4 linked regions of the Homo sapiens genome follow. The protein of the gene in region 4 purifies or fractionates together with the protein of the main gene of each other region. This does not show direct contact. Each region holds a gene or a part of one and is shown on either strand. Other genes may lie near its edges.

The links. The genes of interacting proteins can lie anywhere in the genome.
Region 1: the proteins of EDN3 (region 4) and UXS1 purify together in Homo sapiens (affinity purification with mass spectrometry; one large-scale study listed by BioGRID and IntAct). This does not show direct contact.
Region 2: the proteins of EDN3 (region 4) and COL6A1 purify together in Homo sapiens (affinity purification with mass spectrometry; one large-scale study listed by BioGRID and IntAct). This does not show direct contact.
Region 3: the proteins of EDN3 (region 4) and FBXO11 purify together in Homo sapiens (co-immunoprecipitation; 2 studies listed by BioGRID and IntAct, with this or other methods). This does not show direct contact.

What each region holds. Positions count from the first base shown.
Region 1 is NC_000002.12:106,123,903-106,128,602, forward strand, and holds part of UXS1 (UDP-glucuronic acid decarboxylase 1), read right to left. Parts: intron 1,778-4,700; coding exon 1,718-1,777; intron 1-1,717. UniProt on the Homo sapiens protein: Catalyzes the NAD-dependent decarboxylation of UDP-glucuronic acid to UDP-xylose. Necessary for the biosynthesis of the core tetrasaccharide in glycosaminoglycan biosynthesis.
Region 2 is NC_000021.9:45,991,469-45,996,168, forward strand, and holds part of COL6A1 (collagen alpha-1(VI) chain precursor), read left to right. Parts: intron 1-541; coding exon 542-604; intron 605-695; coding exon 696-749; intron 750-894; coding exon 895-930; intron 931-1,279; coding exon 1,280-1,342; intron 1,343-2,698; coding exon 2,699-2,761; intron 2,762-4,700. UniProt on the Homo sapiens protein: Collagen VI acts as a cell-binding protein.
Region 3 is NC_000002.12:47,829,100-47,833,799, forward strand, and holds part of FBXO11 (F-box only protein 11), read right to left. Parts: intron 3,972-4,700; coding exon 3,865-3,971; intron 3,782-3,864; coding exon 3,670-3,781; intron 3,580-3,669; coding exon 3,473-3,579; intron 3,388-3,472; coding exon 3,250-3,387; intron 1-3,249. UniProt on the Homo sapiens protein: Substrate recognition component of a SCF (SKP1-CUL1-F-box protein) E3 ubiquitin-protein ligase complex which mediates the ubiquitination and subsequent proteasomal degradation of target proteins, such as DTL/CDT2, BCL6, SNAI1 and PRDM1/BLIMP1.
Region 4 is NC_000020.11:59,317,129-59,321,828, forward strand, and holds part of EDN3 (endothelin-3 isoform 1 preproprotein), read left to right. Parts: intron 1-3,888; coding exon 3,889-4,065; intron 4,066-4,700. UniProt on the Homo sapiens protein: Endothelins are endothelium-derived vasoconstrictor peptides.

The sequences.
Region 1 (4,700 bases), on a different chromosome or scaffold from region 4:
TTATCTTACCCCTGAAGTCTGACTTGGGACTCAGTGGGCCTGAGCAGGTGCAGGGAGGTAAACAGACAGGTATCCTGCCACTTGTCTGCTCAGCCGATCCCTCTGGGTCAGCACAGCCTCCGCAGCAATGCAGAAGTGTGCTGCAAAGAAAGGTCTATGTATCTGCTGCTGTGGTTTAAAATTCCCTTTCAAAGAGCAAACTTCTCACTACTCAGTGAGAGAAAAGTTCTAAGGAAAATACTTCCTGAGAGAAAGGAACCATTGACTTAAATTCACAGAATGTACCAGATGATTGATCCCAGACCTTTTTCTGGGGATCTTTAACAAGAGCTGGGCAAGCTACCCTCCAAAAAAGATGGTCATAAATTTGACAAAGGACAAGAAAGAAAAGGCTGGGTACGCCCATCTGTCCCTGGACTGGCACCGTCTGGACTGAAATGCCCAGGATGCCAAGCTTCTAAATAAGTCCCCTCACAAAATCACCGTGGAATAAAACAGGGACAGCTTACATTGTTAATACAAAAGTAAAGACCTAGAGTCAAAAATAATTTCCAATCATCTCCCCTTTCCAGCATTCTGTGAGGCTAAGACACTAAGCAAATACTCCACAAAAGTTTACTTTGGTTATTCAAGGTCAGAGGAGAGCACCTGGTGACTTCCATAAATTACACTCTCCAATTATTTAGGAAGCCTAAGGAACACAGGCTCCTGTCAGACATGCAGATAATAAATGAGATGAGTAGGGGAAGCAGGATGGCTGTGGGAAAGATGTCACTGTTCCCCTCTGGACAGATACCATACCCCATAGGTAGGGAGGGACACACTCTGCTCTTTTATTAATAACTGCCCAGGACTTCAAAAAAGTAGACAATGAACTACCTTTTCATAGAGATTACAAAGAATATCACTGCATTTAGAAGAATTTCTCTGTTGCTATGATTTTTTTCATTTGGTTTCCTTAATTAAAAAAAAGTCTCTTCTGATTTTACCCTCTTACTTCCTTCTCTTGTCCACAATAATAATGTAAAATAGAAAAATTACATCATACTAAAACCTGGCTTCCGCTGTATCAGCTAAGCAGTTCTCCTGAACCTTGCACACCCAGCTGGTTTGGGGCTGAAGAGAAATCAACACACATTGAAAACACAGCTCCTGGTCCCCACTCCTCAACTCCTTCTCAGGCAGTGAAGGAGAGGAAGGCTGTAGCTTGGTAAAACAAGCTCGTGGGTGTTCTGACACTACCTGCTTAAGGTTCTTCCAGAACTCGTTATACAACAGGGGAGGCAGTCAGCGCATGTCTCTTCTCCCAGCAAGCTTTAAAGGCCAGCCCATGAGCTCTTGGGAGGTCAGGCATGCAGCATGCATGACTCACATAGAAGAATGACATGTGCTAGACAAACAGGTAAAAAGATAGTGTGATTTGTGGGGTGTTTTCAGAGCAGAATGGCAGAAACACTTCTGTGGAATCATAAATGGTGGGTCTTTACTGGCCAGGTGACAGGGTGCAGACCTCCAGTGATGTGTGATCAAACAAGAGAGGCTGTCCCACAAGGAAGAGGAGCTTGGCGACCCGGGAGGCCGACAGGTAGCCTCCTGTGCACAAGAGGAGCATGGGCAGGCTGGGCCTCCTCAGAAAAGAACACTGGACTCTTCTGAGACAGGATGAAAACAGTCCAAGGGCTGGAGTGAACATCTCCTGAGAGAGCCTCCTACTCACCTCCATACACCTCCGATGTGGAGGCCAGGAGCAGACGGGCACCGACTCGTTTTGCCAGCCCTACAGAAAGCAATGACATGATAAAAGAGACTGAATTTACATGTGCAGGCACATTTTTTGCTGGCCAATTTAAGCAATGTTTTAGTATTAAAGACATTTAATTATCTATCCAATTATCTACCCTTACTGCGTCTGCTTTGGCACCAAAATAAACAAAACAAATACAGTAAGAAAAACATAAATGGATTCTCAGAAGGCCAGTATTTTGTTGAATACTTGTCATAAGCAGGGCCAAACGCAGAATCTGTTAGTTTGATAAAGTGTGATTTGAGGAGTTTCGTGAAGACTCCTCTGCCCCCAAATATTACCCCATATTTTACTGGGTAACTTTCCCTTGGTTGGCAGAAGGCAAGGCCCTTTTCTCCTTAACTTCCACAATGGTCAGCTTGCCACTTCCTGAACATCTCCTGGGCTCTTCTAACTGCCCATGCCACCCTGTCTGGGTAACTCTCCACTCATTCTTCTTCCTCCTATGCGGTTCAGCTTACACAGCACCTTTTCCAAAGCAACTGTCACATTCCTCAATTCTGCTCTGAACCCCTTTCCTGGACTGACCACTCACATGTAACTGACCAGAACATCATTATCTATGGTGGTCAAGTAAGTATGGAAAGTCTTCCAAACTCATTCACAGAGTCCCAGTGTACAGTGGTTCACTACAGGATCCAAGAACCCCCCTGACCGTCACTAACCCTGTACTTAAGACAGGCGACATACCCCACCCCCAATCGCCACTACACTAGAGGGGGGCTGTGCTGGACACCCCTCAGCTCTGCCCCCCCACCAACAGCAGGGGCCAACACATGCCCACGAAGCACTGCTAGGAGGGTGAGACGAGCCAGGCACATGCAACCTATGTGCGCTTCTGGGTGAGGCTGGGTGGGGTGGTAGGATTCTAGCGTGCAGCAGCCAGGGGTATCAGTGTGTCAGACAATGTAGTAGCTTCAAAATGAAGGACTCTGAGATCTTTTTCTTCCTGATTAAATTTTTTGAGATATTTGTACATTCAAATTCAATTGTACAAAGTAGTATAGGGACCTTATGTATCTTTTACCCAGATTCCCCCAATGCTAAAATTTGCAAAACTAGATTGTGCCACAATCAGGACATTGACATTGATATGATCAGTGACTATTTCCACTGAAACGGACATTCCATTGATAAAAGTGATAGAGCATTTCCATCTCCACCAGGATCCCTCACAGGGCCCTTCTACAGCCTCTCCTCGCTCCCTCCCACCTGCTGACCCCTGGCAACCACTAACCAATTCTCCATGTCTATAATTGTGTCATTTCAAGGATGATACACAAATGGAACACGGCCTCTTAGGACTGAATTTTTTCATGGAGCATATTTCCCTCAAAATCTATCCAAGCTGCAGTGTGTATCAAAGTTCCTTCCTAATCTATTGCTGTGTAGAATTCCCGGGGATATATGTATGCACTGCCGTTAATCATTCACCTATGATAGGACATTCTGGTTGCTTCTCATTTTTGACCTCTACAAGTAAAGCTGCTATGAACATTCACACAGGTTTTCATGTGAACATAAATTTTCATTTCTCTGGGAGAAATGCCCAAGAATACAATTACTGAGTCTTACAGTAGATGCATACTTAGTTTTTTAAGAAAGCGTCAAACTGTTTTCCAGAGTAACTATACATTTTATATTCCCCCCTACCTGAGTTCTTTCTAGTTTATAGTTTTCTCTGAACTTTGGTCACAAACACACATCACAAATGCAATGTGTTATATTTCAAAAACAACTGAGTTTAAAGATTTTGAAACTAAGACTATTTCTGTAGCACTTTCATGGAATGACTCACGCAGGATCTACAGAGACAACTGTCAGGGAGTGAAGCCAAGGGAGCTATCCTGCTGCTGTAGTGTCTGGGGGTTACGAAAAACTTTCATCAGAGAAAGAACTCTAGCACAGGGTCTGGGAGGTGGGCAAGTTACATAGAGGAAAGGGCCTCACCAGGAAAAAGCCAGGCAAAGTTCATGGCATCTTGTCTCAAGTGCAAGATGGCTAATGACAGCGCCTCTCGGTTCAGAATACAAAGTCCAATTTGGGTTTCTTTCCAGCCTACCAATGGTCTCCCTTTGCCTTTTGTATCTCTCCTGGAAGACTCTTTACCATTCCTGCAAGGCCTCCACATTCAATCTCAGTCATAGCTCAAGCCCTAGCTCGAGTCATTTTTGCCTTTAACTCTAACAGCACTTTGCTGAGGCCTCTCTTTGGGAGACTTTCCTTTCCTACTAGGTATCATCGACGCTTGTGCCCGTTCAGCAGCCCCCAACCCCCATAGGGCACCAAGTGCAGAAGAGCCTGAGGGTAACCCCATCTGAATCTGCCCCAGTGACAGGACCCACGGGCACAGTGACTGCATCCCCCGAGTAGGAAGAATAAACGGAATCTCCCTAAACACCAAGTGCATGATCTTTTCCTCTATGGTCTAGTTCTGGTATGATGGAGGGGGGCGGGACAGAGAGAGTGTAGGAGGGGTAGGCGCTTGTGATGGCAAGAAGAGGGCATCACGCACACCTCTAAGCAGAAGCAGCAGCACCCTGTTCTGTCTGGTGACCAGAGCAGGAGACGGTAACAAAGAAGATAAAGCTCTTTCCAGATAGGAAGAATGAATCATCTTACTCCAAACAACCTGTCCCCTGTGATGGTTCATTTTATGTGTCAACTTAGGCCACAGGATGCCCAGGTATCTGGTTGAACATTATGTCCGGGGGTATCTGTGAAGGTGTTTCCGGAAGAGAGGATAATTTGAATGTGTAGACTGCGTAGAACACATGGCCCTCCCCAACGTGGATGTATCATCCAGTCCCTTACAGGCTTGACTAGAACACAAAGATGGAGGAAGGTCAACTGCTTACACAGAACATCGATCTGCCCTCGGCTCTCTGGTTCTCAG
Region 2 (4,700 bases), on a different chromosome or scaffold from region 4:
GGAGGGCGAGTGGGCAGCGGGAGGGCGGGAGCACGAGGCGGGAGAAGGAGCTTTTTCGTCTGACAGCTGAGTCTGCCGTTGCTGGTGTTTTCTCTGGAGTTTCTTTGTTGAAGCTGAAGTGTTGGGGAAGACAAAGGCGAATGCTGACCCCACCCCAAACATTCCCAGACGAGCTCCTAGAACCCAGCAGACGGTTTCCAAATCTCATCTTCAAGTTCCCAGATTACCCTCCAGGCCCTAGATTTGAGTTTGCCAATTTGCCAGCCTGGCAAAGCTGTGCCTTCTCTAATGGGAACCAAATCCTGCCCCTTAGACAAGATGGCCCTTGGCTGGGCCTCACAGGGAACAAGGTTGGAGCATTCCAGGAGGTCTTTGTGCAGGGTTGTGGATGGCTGAGGGTGCTGGGGGGTCTGGGCTCAGACAGTGTTGGTCAGAGGGAGTGGCCTGAAGTATGGGTGAGAGGCCCTGGATGTGGCCTCTGATGGCTGCACCCCTGGTGCACACCCCTGCCAGCGTGTGTGACTCCCCCGGTCTTCCCCAGGGCGAGCCTGGAGCTGACGGGGAGGCGGGGAGACCAGGGAGCTCGGGACCATCTGGAGACGAGGTGAGGAGCTTCACAGCCCCCACACATGCCAGGTATGGGCCCAGGGAGGGTCAAGGAGATGGAGCGACCATTCAACCCTTGTTCCCCACAGGGCCAGCCGGGAGAGCCTGGGCCCCCCGGAGAGAAAGGAGAGGCGGGCGACGAGGTGAGTGAGGGCTCCTGACACCTTCCTGGGGAAGTGCATGGCCTCAGCTTCTGATCCTCTTTGCTCGGGGTCTACTCCACGTCCCTGAGACCAAATGCAGTGTGTCCACCAGACTAACGCCGGCGTCTGTTTCTCTTCATCCCAGGGGAACCCAGGACCTGACGGTGCCCCCGGGGAGCGGGTGAGTGGGGCAGGGGCAGCCTGCGCTGTTGGCCTCACCATGTAGCTGTGGACGTGGCCTCTGCGGCCCAGTCTGGCCCTCCCAGCACTGAGAGCCATGGCCTCCTGCCCAAGACAAATGGGTTTCTTCACCCACACGTCCAGGATGCCTCTTCCCACAGTCTCAGAGCGGGTGGGACCTGGGGAACCAGGAGATTCCGGCCTCTGCAACCGTGGGGCATGCGGTGGAGGGGTGGCCCCTCCCAGGGGTCCTGCTGGGGGAGTCAGTCCAGGCCAGGCCTCAAGCCCCACCCCAGCTGGGTGTGAGTTCCAGCAGCTGAGGCTTCTCCCCTCCATGTCTCTCCACTCAGGGTGGCCCTGGAGAGAGAGGACCACGGGGGACCCCAGGCACGCGGGGACCAAGAGGAGACCCTGTGAGTCACAGTTCCTGGAGCTGGGAACCACCCCAGGAAGGGGCAGGCGGAGGCTGGGGCTGGGTCAGGCCTCCAGAGCCACAGGACACATCATGAAGCCCCTGTGGCCCCTCAACGTGGCCAGCCCATCCCCACGCCGTCAGGGAGGGCAGCCCCTGAAGCCGGCGCCCAGCCATGTGCCTGATGCTGGGACCTGTTTCATGTGAAGGCGTTGCCCGTGGACCCGGTGCCCACTTTCCCACCAGGCGGCTTCCACGTTTCTGCATCCGAGCTTGGGTTCTTCTTTGGAATAATTTTCCTTAGTTAAAATTCCCAGCGTGAGGAAGTTGGGTCAGTACCCCAGACGGGAAGCTAGGCCTGCAGGGCGCCTGCCTGGGAAGGCTTGACATGGAAAACTCACCCCAGAGCCGAGATGCCGGCGGCCTCAGAGGCCACCCCCCACCTTCAGCTCCGTGGACCGTGGGCCTCGCTAGGCCACCCCACAGCCCAGCCTCAGGGTGCAGAAGCACAGGGCCCTTCTCTGTCCCTGTGACTTGCTGGGAAATCTGTGCTGGATGTGGGGCGGGGCAGCTGGCAGACTCCGGGCGTCTCAGTCCCATCCGGCTCAGGGAGAGCCAGGGCCTGGCGGGCAGAGTGAAGGGGAGAGAATGCCCTAGTGTGCCCAGCCGAGCTGCCAGGCCTCAGAGGCAGCGCCCCCGGGTGCCCCCTTGTCCGAGAATCAAGACATGCGACTGTCGTGTGCTGTGACAGACAGGCGGGGCTCCAGCAGGGCCAGAGAGCTGAGCCGGGGCCAGAGTCGCCGCCACCGAGGGATTTGGCTCCCCAGTGGGGGGTGGGGGATTTCTGACCTCCTCCCTGGGAGCTCCCCAGAAGCGCACAGCCCCCGTGGAGGGGTCGGGGGGACGTCAAAGCAGGGATCGTGTGACTTAGTGACTCAGACTGCCTTCTAGGCCCACTCCTCTGAGATCAGGATATGAGACTGACAGCCAGGCAGAGCCCAGAGGAAGGGCCAGCCACGCAGCTCCAGCTTCCCGGCGGGCCACAAGTCCATGGCTACAAACACTTGCCGGGTCCACGGAGCTTGCTGGAGAAGCAGGGATGCACGCAGGGACGCCTCTGGGGCCCCAGGAGGAGCTGCCGGCCTCCTGAATGAAGATAGCCATAGCCAGCCACGCCGATGGCCACGCACGTGGGCCGAGGAAACGCTTGGCGAGGCCAGGAAGGGGCTGTGCGGGGAGGGAAGGCCGGAACAGCCCAGTGACCACCTGGACAGCATGCTGTGGCTCCCAGCGTGCCCGGGCAGCCATCCTCCCCAAGGATGGCCCAGCTCCACACTCACGGCTCGTTTCTCTTCAGGGTGAAGCTGGCCCGCAGGGTGATCAGGGAAGAGAAGGCCCCGTTGGTGTCCCTGGAGACCCGGTAGGAAGCGCTGTGGGGTTGGGGGGCGTTGGCCAATTTGGGTTTTGGGGGTAGAAGTGCTCCAGCAGCTCACGCACTGGGGGTCTGTTCATTTCCGTTTGAGGGCCTCTGTGTTTCCGTAGATCTCGGGGGTGTCCCTGCGTGGGAGCCGGCTGCAGGGGGTGAGGCGCGGCCTGGGCCGGGCTGGTGTGGATTGTTGAGAGCAGGCCCAGCGCCCGGGGGCCTGACGCTGAGACGCTCAGCCCAGGTGGAGAAGCGCTGTCTGGGGGCCCATCCGGGGCAAGGGTGCCTCACAGTGAGGAAGAGGTGTTGGAGCCCCTGGGAGACACTGGGAGCTTGGTCAGCATCTGTTTTTCTGGGTCAGGAGCCAGGCATGACTGTGGCTGGAGGTCAACTGGGGAGTGTGAGGCTATGGAGGTTTCCAGAATCCCAGGGTGTCAGGATGAAAATGCACTTTCATCTCATTCTAAATTCCCTTCTCCGAGCCTCTGGAATCGCTGTGCACGCCGCACGGCTTTCTGTCTCTTCCCCCATTCTGATGACTGCCATGATGGTGGCTCCAGTGTGGTGTTGCCCGCAGGCTGGGCTGGGCCGTTGCATCCTCCCGGAGCTCACCTGCCCCACGGGGACAGGAAGGCCTCCACACGGTCACGCCCGGAGACAGCAAGTCTGTGCTCCCGAGCTTGTCTGCTTCTGTGGACAAATCGACCTTACGGCTCCATGTGCGCAGCTGCCCACACACCGAGCACAAGGCCAGACCCTGGGCACGGCAGCTGTCTCAGACGTCCAGCAAGATGGGGCCTCAGACCCAGGGAGATGGGAGAGGCCGTCCCAGTGCAAGTCACATTTGTATTTCTGTGCACGAGGTGAAATCGTGCTTTTGTGGTGCCAACGGGTGTTACACAGCTGTTAAAAATACCTGTGTCATAGATGAGGACCAGGGCAGGGCTTGGCAGGCGGGGTCTGGGCCGTTCGTCCACCTGGTCCTGCGTGCCGCTCACGGCAGGGGCAGAAAGGGCTCCCGACACCTTCCTGGGGAAGTGCACGGCCTCAGTCTCTGATCCTCTTTGCTCTTTGAGCTCCCGGGGCTCCAGCCCTGAGGATGATCTGACCTCCCATGTGGTCACCCAGGACAGGGCCAGGTGCAGGGCACAGTGCGTGGAAGAGGCCATGCAGCCAGTGGCAGATTGTGGGGAGGGGACGGCCCAGGGCCACGTTCCAGGCTTGGGAGGCTGCTCCAGACCTTGGTAGCTGAAAGTCTCAGTGGGAATGAGCGTTCAGAGGCCAGGACTTGCTCGGAGAATTCTAACCACACCCTGCCTGTTTTATATGTTCAGTTTTCAAAGTAATCAATAGCCACTATAAGAAAAAAACAAAGCCACTTTCAAAGGGTTGTGGTAAGAGGCAGTCCTGTGAGCAGGCCGGCTGCAGGGCCTCCAGGGCTGTGGGGCAGGCTGCACAGGGGCTGGTGGGTCCCATGCCTGGGGGTCTGGGAATAGTCTCTAGGCTGCTGTCCTGGAGGAGGTTTCCCCCAACGCCTGAGACCAGGGCACCATGTGACCCATGACTCACAGTTGCCTGGCTGAGGCAGGCACTTGTTCACCTGGAGCCTCCCTGGGGCCTTTCGGGGCCCGGGGGTGTGGATAGGTGGCTTTGGAGCCACATTTGTCCATCGGGACGTTGGGCTCCCAGCTGGCCTTCCGGGCTTTCCCTGCTCCCAGAACCTCCCTGCTCAGCCCTTGCCAGCCTTACCCCTCCCCTCCACCCTGCCCAGCATGGGGCTCTCCCTGTGTGGATGCCAGAAGCAGTTGGGCCCTCAGGGCTGGTCCCAGGAGGTGCCCCCAGTGAGGTGCTCTGCAGAAACTGCCCAGTCTGGCCTCCTGCTGTCTGTGGCACAGTCTGACTGTGTGTGGTGAGGTCCAGGCCTTCTGCCTCCCAC
Region 3 (4,700 bases), on a different chromosome or scaffold from region 4:
GGCCAGGCTGGTCTTGAACTCCTGGGCTCAAGGGATCTGCCTACCTTGTCCTCCCAAAGTGTTAGGATTACAGGCGTGACCCACTGCACCCGGCCTCAAAAAATTTTATAGTTATTTGGCACTGCTATGACATTTTATTTATTTATTTATTTATTTTTTGAGACAGAGTCTTGCTCTGTCGCCCAGGCTGGAGTGCAGTGGCGCGATCTCGGCTCACTGCAACCTCTGCCTCCTGGATTCAAGCGATTCTCTTGCCTTAGCCTCTCGAGTAGCTGGGACTTGAGGCGTGCACCAACACACCCGGCTAATTTATGTATTTCTAGTAGAGACAGGGTTTCACCATGTTGGCCAGGCTGTTCTCGAATTCCTGACCTCAGGTGATCTGCCTGCTCGGCCTCCCAAAGTGCTAGGATTATAGGCATGAGCCACCACACCTGGCCTGCTATGACATTTTAATCTTATTTTACAAAAGTAACAACTCTGCACTGAACTGAGTATTAAACAAACAAAAGACAATTGGAGAACTGTGAACATTAAGAGAAAATTTGATGATATTAAGGAATTATTCCTAATTATTGAGGAGTGGATTAGCACTGTGGTTATGTGAAAGAAAAAAAAAACACCCATCTTTTAAAGACACATGGTAAAATATTTACAAGAGATGATGAAGTCTGGTATTTACTTCAAAATAATCCAGAGTGTAAAAAAGGTAGTAAAACGTATGAGGTATACATTAAACAAAATTGGCCATGAAATGATAGTTGTTGAAGGCAGACAATAGGTACCTGGAGAGTCATTACACTATTCTCTCTACTTCAGTGTACGTTAGAAATATTTCATTAAAAAAATGTAAAAATTAAAGGCAACACCCACACTGGAAGCAAAATAGCAGCAGAAAAACAAAACCACGGAGACATGGTAAGGAACACAGATTTGAGGAACTCACACAACACTAAACAGAACAGAACATAGCAATATAAATAACCAGAAAGATAGCTAAGTTTCTAAAGAAAGGAACATATGGAACAGAAAAATAGTAAAACAATACATCAGCAAAAGCCAAAATATGGATACTGAGGTAGAAGAGCAATCTTTCAAGCAAAGAAGAAAGAAAAAAACCCAATGTGATCTCAGAGTTCTCAGCCATGCTCAATGCTACAATAGAAAAATGTCTACAGAATCGTGAGGGAAAGAAAGAAACTCAGCTAAGTTAAAAGGCAATGGATAGGGATTCTCGCATGGCAAGAATTCAAGCTACAATATCCATAAGGCGTTCTTTAAAAAAAACAAACAAAAAATGGCTGGATGACAAAACCTAGCCATACCAAGAATGAATCAAAATTTAAATTCAAGAATGGAGAAACGATGATAAAAGAACTAATGATAAATAAATAAAGAATAAATATAGACCAATAACTGTAGGAATGCAAATATTTTAAACCTTTGCAAAATAAAAATAAAAATGATGGGGTGGAGATAGATTGAAATACTTTATAAATCTTAAAATGTATAAATCTCATTAATCCTTAATGGAAATATCTATCTATAGCATTGTCTAGACTTATTTTTAAAAATGCTGTGATATTTACAAGCCCAAATCTATTCTTTAAAATGGTATAAGGAGTGTGTGTGTGATGAGGAGTAACTTACTATGGTGAACTTTAATAAGGGACCATCCCATCACCAGAGGTCTTTCAAAAATGATGAACTTGGCCAGGTGTGGTGGCTCACGCCTGAAATCCCATGCAAAGGCACACATCTTACATCTTGGCTCACTGCAACCTCCGTCTCCTGGGCTCAAGTGATCCTCCTGTCTCAGCCCCCAAGTAGCTGGGACTACAGGTGTGAGCCACCATGCCCAGCTAATTTTTGTATTTTTTGTAGAGACAGAGTTTCACCATGTTGTCCAGGCTGGTTTTGAACTCCTGAGCCCAAGCGATCCAACTGCCTTGGCCTCCCAAAGTGCTGGGATTACAGGTGTGAGCCACTGCACCCGGCCATGGTCTAGTTTAGTTTAAAAAAAGAGCTCTGCCTTGGCCAGGCGCAGTGGCTCATGCCTGTAATCCCAGGACTTTGGGAGGCCGAGGCAGGTGAATCACTTGAGGCCAGGAGTTCAAGCCCAGCCTGACCAACATGGTGAAACCCTGTTTCTACTAAAAATACAAAATTAGGCAGGCGTGGTGGTGCATGCCTGTAATCCCAGCTACTTGGAAGGCTGAGACATGAGAATCGCTTGAACCAGGAGGTGGAGGTTGCAGTGAGCCAAGATCACACCATTGCCATTGCACTCTAGCCTGGGCAACAAGGGTGAAACTCGGTCTCAAAAAGAAAAAAAAAAAAAAAAAAAAAGAAAAATGAAAATAAAAAAATTTCTTTGTATAGATGAATCCAACATTCCCAGGATTGCTTAATATTGTATAATAGGCAACAAAACCTCACCATAATCCTATTTGCTACAATGTGGTGACCCTCTCTCCCATCTTGGACTCCGCAACAAAAAATTTTACCAATGCTGTATTAGGACTTGAAAATTACCTCAAGGAAAATTTGACATTAAATGAAAAAAAATCTGAAAAGACATTCAAAACATTATTTTGAAATGGTGATCTCAGAGCTCAAAAAGTCATGTCTCTAGAAAATTATGTAAAACTATAAGGTAATACTTAAAACACAGTATATTCCATAAGGATGCCTAATATTAACTGCTGCATAATGGTTTTAAAATTGGTATTTTATCAATGTATCTCCTATTAAAGTTCTGCCAGTTTAAAATTTTCAAGAGGAATTAAATGAAAAGCAAAATAACAATGAAACCATTATTTCTCAAAGTATACTCTACAAACTGTGTTAGATTCACTTATGTTGTTTATTAAAAATACATATTCTAAGCCCCATCCTTGGAAATTTTGATTTATTAAACTGGAGGATACAGGAATTTTCTTTAAAACAGAAAGCTTTTGGGTGGCTTTTATGAACACACATTTGAGACTTAATTAACGAGTTATACCTTACTCCCCTCAAAGATCACATATATTGCCTAAGAACGCTATCACCTCTACATGGATATGTCTGATGCATAAATTTACAGAATAAATATTTCATATTAATTTTAAAAAATAATGCTGAAATTGCTTTTAAACCTATACTCTTCAATTCAGATAATTTGGTGATGAGAAAATAATGCTGAAACATACTTGGAATTTAACTGATACAGAAGTCCGTTTTTCTATTAAAAATAAGTGTTCTTACCATGCCATGATCAAATGTGAACACACCAACATCACGTCCATGATGAATATGATTCCGTCTAATAATTGGGTTTCCATGATTTTTAACCCAAATCCCAGCTAACGCATTATTGGAAATTTCATTATCCTCATATATTCCCTACAACAAGTTATCAGAAACAAACATCAGTAGAGCTTTTAAACATTTTCTAAAAAGAAAAAAACCACACAAAATTAAAAAATACCTGTGCATGATCTGTTATATATAGTCCAACATTTTCACAGTCACTGATGTTACAGTGCTTGATGGTGGGACATGCTCCTTGACCACTAACACATACTGCAGAACCAACTGTAGAAAAATTATTTATTTATGTAAAAACCTACTGGGCAACATACAGTGACTCAAAATTTTATTGTAAAATATAAAGAAAACACTAACCTGTACATGTACTTCGGATGATACAGTGATCAATAATAGGGCTACAATTTACTGTAATCTCTAAGCAGTGGTGTGCATTGTGGTGTTGTGCAGATTTGTCATCAGGGTTAAACTGAAAAGTAAAAATTTTGTTTGAAATAAACAATTACTGCCTTTATGATTTCAATGTGTATTTTAAATCTTAACATGTCTTACCCTTATTGTCATATATCCAACATAAGCATCTTCAGAGCCTTCCATAAAAACGAAGGTTGAATCTCTAGTGTTTTCAATTATAACTTTGTCTGCCACTTTCCCAGGTGCTGTGGAGAAGATATTTTAAAGAATATTACCTTTATTCGATTTCAACAGATGGGTATCTTTATGGAGGGGGAACTTACTAAAAACATTAGTACTGAGTAGTGGGACTAATATTCACTATCAGTTAACTATGTTTCATCATCAGCCTTTGCTATATTCAAATCCATGCACAGTATTACTTCTAATAACATTTAACTATAAATACTATGAATATAAAATGCAACGGCATATTAAAAAATGGTTTCTTGTGGAAACAAAAACAAAAAATGGTTTCTTGTGGAAACCATTCTGTTTCCAGCAGCAGCACTGGAAACAGAAGCTCAAGAAGAGAAGAGACCTCTATTTAAATTTATTTCCAACAGTGGCCTCGATTTAGAAAGTAATAAAATCACCAGACAAACATTTGCTCTAATCTATTCTCCCCATCTTCATGAGGAGATAGAGGAAGAAAGCAAAAGAGGCTGTAAATGCAAATTTCACTAGCAAATAATAATTACTAGCTATCTTAAAATGTTCTATGTACTGTATCCTCAAAATAAAAAAACCACAAATCTTCAAATGACTCAGTGTTTGACAGATATTACATTTATTCTTAGAAACCTGACCATAAATAGCTTTGAAATAGTACAAAAGTATTTAAAAATTCTATTTCAGTTCCTTTAAAAACATAGCAATAGAAATATTAGCATCTTTCTTTGCAATTCTCCTGCCTCAGCCTCCAGAGTCGCTGG
Region 4 (4,700 bases):
CACTACTCAGTAAACAGCCAGCGATGAAGCAGGCCACAAATGAAATATGAATGCTCATGAGATATGAGTACGTTATCACTACTGAAATAGAAGTGCTCATGAGCTGGTAATCTGGCGTCAGAGCTCGGTGAGAAGGTGGTGTCGAATGAGGTGACCTGTGGCCTTGGGCTCCTTATTACCCTTCTTTATTGCTAAGTCAAACATCTCAAATGCCAAGCTTAGTAGGTGGGACTTTTCTGATACAACTCACTTGACCTCCCAGACCAGATAAATAACAATAGTAGCTACTGTTTGCTTATGGCACTTTGCTAAGTATTTTCCATGCAGTATCTCCTTTGCTTTGTCCAGCCACACTTTTGTCGACCAGGAAGTTGTTGAGAGGGTGAAGTGATCATCATGTAACATAAGAGCAGTATTACCAGGTCATGTGTCTCTGTGTGTACCTTGCACATACCTGTACCTACTGGCCTTTTTTCCTTTACCTGTTTTCGTAGTCCAACAGCATATAACTCCTGAAGGCATGGACACATAGGGATGTGCCTTTCTGTGTCCCTGTGACACTTACATTGATACCACGTATATAGTGGATGCTGAAGAATGTTGGAGATTCTTTCAGTGATTTTTGTGGTTATTGAACTCTTTAGGGTGAAAAGAATCCTGTCTCGCCAGACTAGAATGATCTCACCATGAATTACCAGTTGCTCAATCAATAATCTGTTCGCCTGGCCTTGTGTGAGGCCCATGGTGGGTAAAAAAGAAGTAAAAGACCTGCCCTCTCTTTTGAGGATCCAGTAATCTGCCTTTAGACTTGGGTAAGAAACACTGCAACTCTGGGCCCTGTGGGTTAGAGGACTGCCTCTGACGCCACTCTGGCCATGCCTCCCACCCCACTGTAAGAGTCTGGGACTCAAAGCCATATGCTCCCTCTTCAAGACCATGTTCCAGGTATTCAGGGGCTGGAATTCCCTACTCACGCATCCCCAAGACCACTTCCAGGGCCTGACACTTGGGGATGAGCAGGGCTCCAGGTACATATCTCCAGGCCTGCAGGGTGACAGCTGCTTACAGGATGTAGGGTGGAAGGAGCTTGGAGGAAGCAGCCTGGGGCATGCACGGGGAGTGCTTGAAGCCAGCGCTGGTGTGGGATGGCGCAGGATAGCAGAGAAGGTACTGGGCCTCCACCACATGTCGATACGGAGTGGCCAGGAGCCCAGGATTCTAAATTAAAAGCTGGACCTGCAAGGCAGCATTTGGAAGCCACATTTGTCCAGATACAGGAGATAACACTTTTTCGTTTCAGGGCTTATCAGATCGATTGAAACCTTTAAATGATTAGCCCTGTGGGAGGTGGGCCTCCATCGCGAACTCTCATTCCAGACTCTACAATGTCAGCGGCAGGCTCTGCTGGGCCGTCAGCTTCCCTCACCTCCGCACGGGTCGGTCAGCAGACTGCACACCCGGAAGGCCCAGGCCTTGGTGGAGGGGTTTCTGTGCCTCAAGGCTGTAGGGCAGGGGAGGGGGCCGTGCCTCTCTAAACTGCCAGAGCCTGTTTGCACACCAGCACTTTACCGCGCTTGGCGGCCGGGGAAGTGCTAAGCCTGTCTTCATTAACAAATACCATGTTGCCTTGTTTCCTTACTTAAAACACTTTGGAGTGTTTTGGCTCAAGTTGAGGGGCTCTACATGTGCAAATGCATAATCAGCTGACAGCAGTTTCAAAATTGCAGGTCTCACTATTGATGGAGAAATGGGAGCGTTGTTATTCCTTGTGTGTAATTTTCTCCAAGAAATGGGGGGATTGATTTAATGTCAACACTCAGAGATTTAATGTGGCCCTGTTACTGGAAAAATACACCTTTGCCAAACTCTGCCTCAAAACAATGTCTACATTGTCTTGCTGCACTCCCTACCCCCATTTCCCATTCCTGAGAAAAAACGGGCTTGAAGGAGGGTTCAGCTCAATACAGGGCTGGATCCTGCCCTCTGTCTCCGTTTCCTGAGCACAGATGGCTCATCAGCGGGGCCTGTCTCTGCCTGGAGGGATCCCACCACCTCTGTTTCTGAGGAACTTGGGTGGGAGGGAGTTAGTGGGGAGAACAAGAGTCAACGAACAGGGTGGGGTCAGTTTTAGGCTCTTGTGTTCAACCCAGCAGGGAGGCGGGGGCGGGGGACTCCCTCCAAGCCTTAGGTCACTATGGGGCTTCCTGGCCCAATTTGCCCTCACTGTCGCAAAAAGGCTTTATGGTGTGTGTTTCAAATGAAAAGAAATTCAATTTGATTTTATTTTGAAAATGCAGCGAGGGGCTGGGCATGGTGGCTCACACCTGTAATCCAGCACTTTGGGAGGCCGAGGCAGGCGGATCACAAGGTCAAGAGATGGAGACCATCCTGGCTAACACAGTGAAACCCTGTCTCTACTAAAAATACAAATAATAACAATAATAATAATTAGCCGGGCGTGGTGGCACATGCCTGTAGTCCCAGCTACTTGGGAGGCTAAGGCAGGAGAATTGCTTGAATCGGGGAGGCAGAGGTTGCAGTGAGCCGAGATCGTGCCATTGCACTCCAGCCTGGGCGACAAGAGCGAGACTCTGTCTCAAAAAAAAAAAAAAAAGAAAAAAAAGAAAAAAAGAAAAGAAAAGAAAAAAGAAAATGCAGAGGGGATGTCAGGACTCCCTTTGAAGTGGATAATTGGTACTACTCAGTGGGGTTCATGGAAACCAAGGTGGTTCATCTCTGGGGACTAGCAAGAAAACCAATGTTTATTGGAAAAGTGGCTTTGGCCACATGTTTCTTCTAGCTATTAGTAATTTGTTCCTCAAATCAAGCTAGTAAGTTAAGGATCTGCTTTCAACTTCTTCCCGCTGAACTGCCTGGCAGGCACCCCCTTTTTCTCTGGCAAGTGATGATTTGGATGTGCACACTCACTAGAACCAGCTTCCACGGGTTTTGCTCTGAACCACACCATCACACTCCTCCTGCCAACGCCAACCATAAACGAAATTGGTCAATGGTTTCAAGCCTTCTTCATCACGCGGCTCTTCTGAGGCTGGTTCCACTTTCAGCTGCATGGCCAGGCCCTCACCCGCCTCTCAGAGGTCACGGAGTGTTCCTTCTGATGTTTGTCTCTTTGAGGAAGCAACTTTCAAAGGCCGGGATGCATCTCTAATGACTGTAATTGCATTTCCCATCTTCTCATTAGCACAAACTGCTGTGCACATGGAAGAAATTCAGTCAGAAACCTCAGGTCTGGCCTCAGGCTGCGGGGTAGGCAGGTGATCTGATCAGGGCGAAGACCCAGACCAGCACGTAGGTTGCCCCACATGCCCTTGGCACAGGAAGAAAAGCCTCTGGAACAGGTGCTATGGTTGTCTTTAATTCTTTCTCGGCTTTCCATGGAATGAGGAGGAGGCCCAGATGGTACTTCCAGAGCCGAGGAGCAGAACCCGGCCCGGAGGAGCTAGGCCGGCCGTGGTTTGGTCTTGAAGAGAATGAAAGCCCACCCATGTTCACAGATCGCAGAGCCCCAGGGCGTTCAGGCCACACCTGCAGCTGGTGCCTTGGGTGAGGCTAAGGGGCTCACAAGTGCAGGCACACATGCCCAGACGCCTGCTGGGCTCCAAGAGTGCTGGCTGCTGCCCAGCTACCCAGACCCTCCATGTCCTTCCATGCCCTCAGCCCCAACTCTCTTCCTGGGGGTTGTGGAGGGCAGGGGGTGCACAGTTCACTCCAGAACCTTCCTAAGACCCAGAGCTGTAGTGGGGAGGGTTGTGAACACCAGTTTCTGAGACCTTTTCAGCCAGGCGGTGGTTCTCGCTCCACACCCTTGGGGGCCCCTGAGCAGGGAGGCCTGGGTGTGCTCACCTAACATTACCCTGTGCTTTGCAGACAGACGGTGCCCTATGGACTGTCCAACTACAGAGGAAGCTTCCGGGGCAAGAGGTCTGCGGGGCCACTTCCAGGGAATCTGCAGCTCTCACATCGGCCACACTTGCGCTGCGCTTGTGTGGGGAGATATGACAAGGCCTGCCTGCACTTTTGCACCCAAACTCTGGACGTCAGCAGGTATGACACCTCCTCCAGTTTCACTCATTTGCAGATATGCATCAACCCTCGGCAAGGCCAGGCCAGGGGCTTCTCAAAGGAGGGTGTAGGATAGTTCAGTCACATCCTGACCTACTGTCGTCCTGTGGGCCAGAGAAAGGAGGTGCTGAGCCCAGAAAAGACCCAGGTCCTCAGCATCAGGAGGGCAGGAGATGCAGCGTCCCCACCCCCTTGCTGCCTTTTGGAACAGAAGCTTCACAGTGGCCGTGGCTACATCTGGTTTCCAGACATATGTTTTTCTGGCCTGCACAGCACTTTGTGAAAATCTGAATAAGTTGCCAACACTTAAAAGATTGAAGAATTAACCCCTGCCAAATGCGTATTTTTAGCCTTCTCGAAAATAGCCCATGATAAGAGTGCAAAAGGCTTATTGGGAGGGGGGGGAACCCAGCACGTAGGACCATCTGGTCTCAGAGCCCCCCTTCTCTTTGGCCACCCTCAGCTGGAACTGAGTGGGGGCATCTCACGTTTGAGTAGGATGTGCAATATCCATTTACCTGTTACCAATTTATCTTACTTTGTAGCCCCTGGAGGCCCCCAAGTTTGAGACCCTGTGGTCTGTCCTGGCTGCCTTAGGGAAGCTTGCAAATCACGTT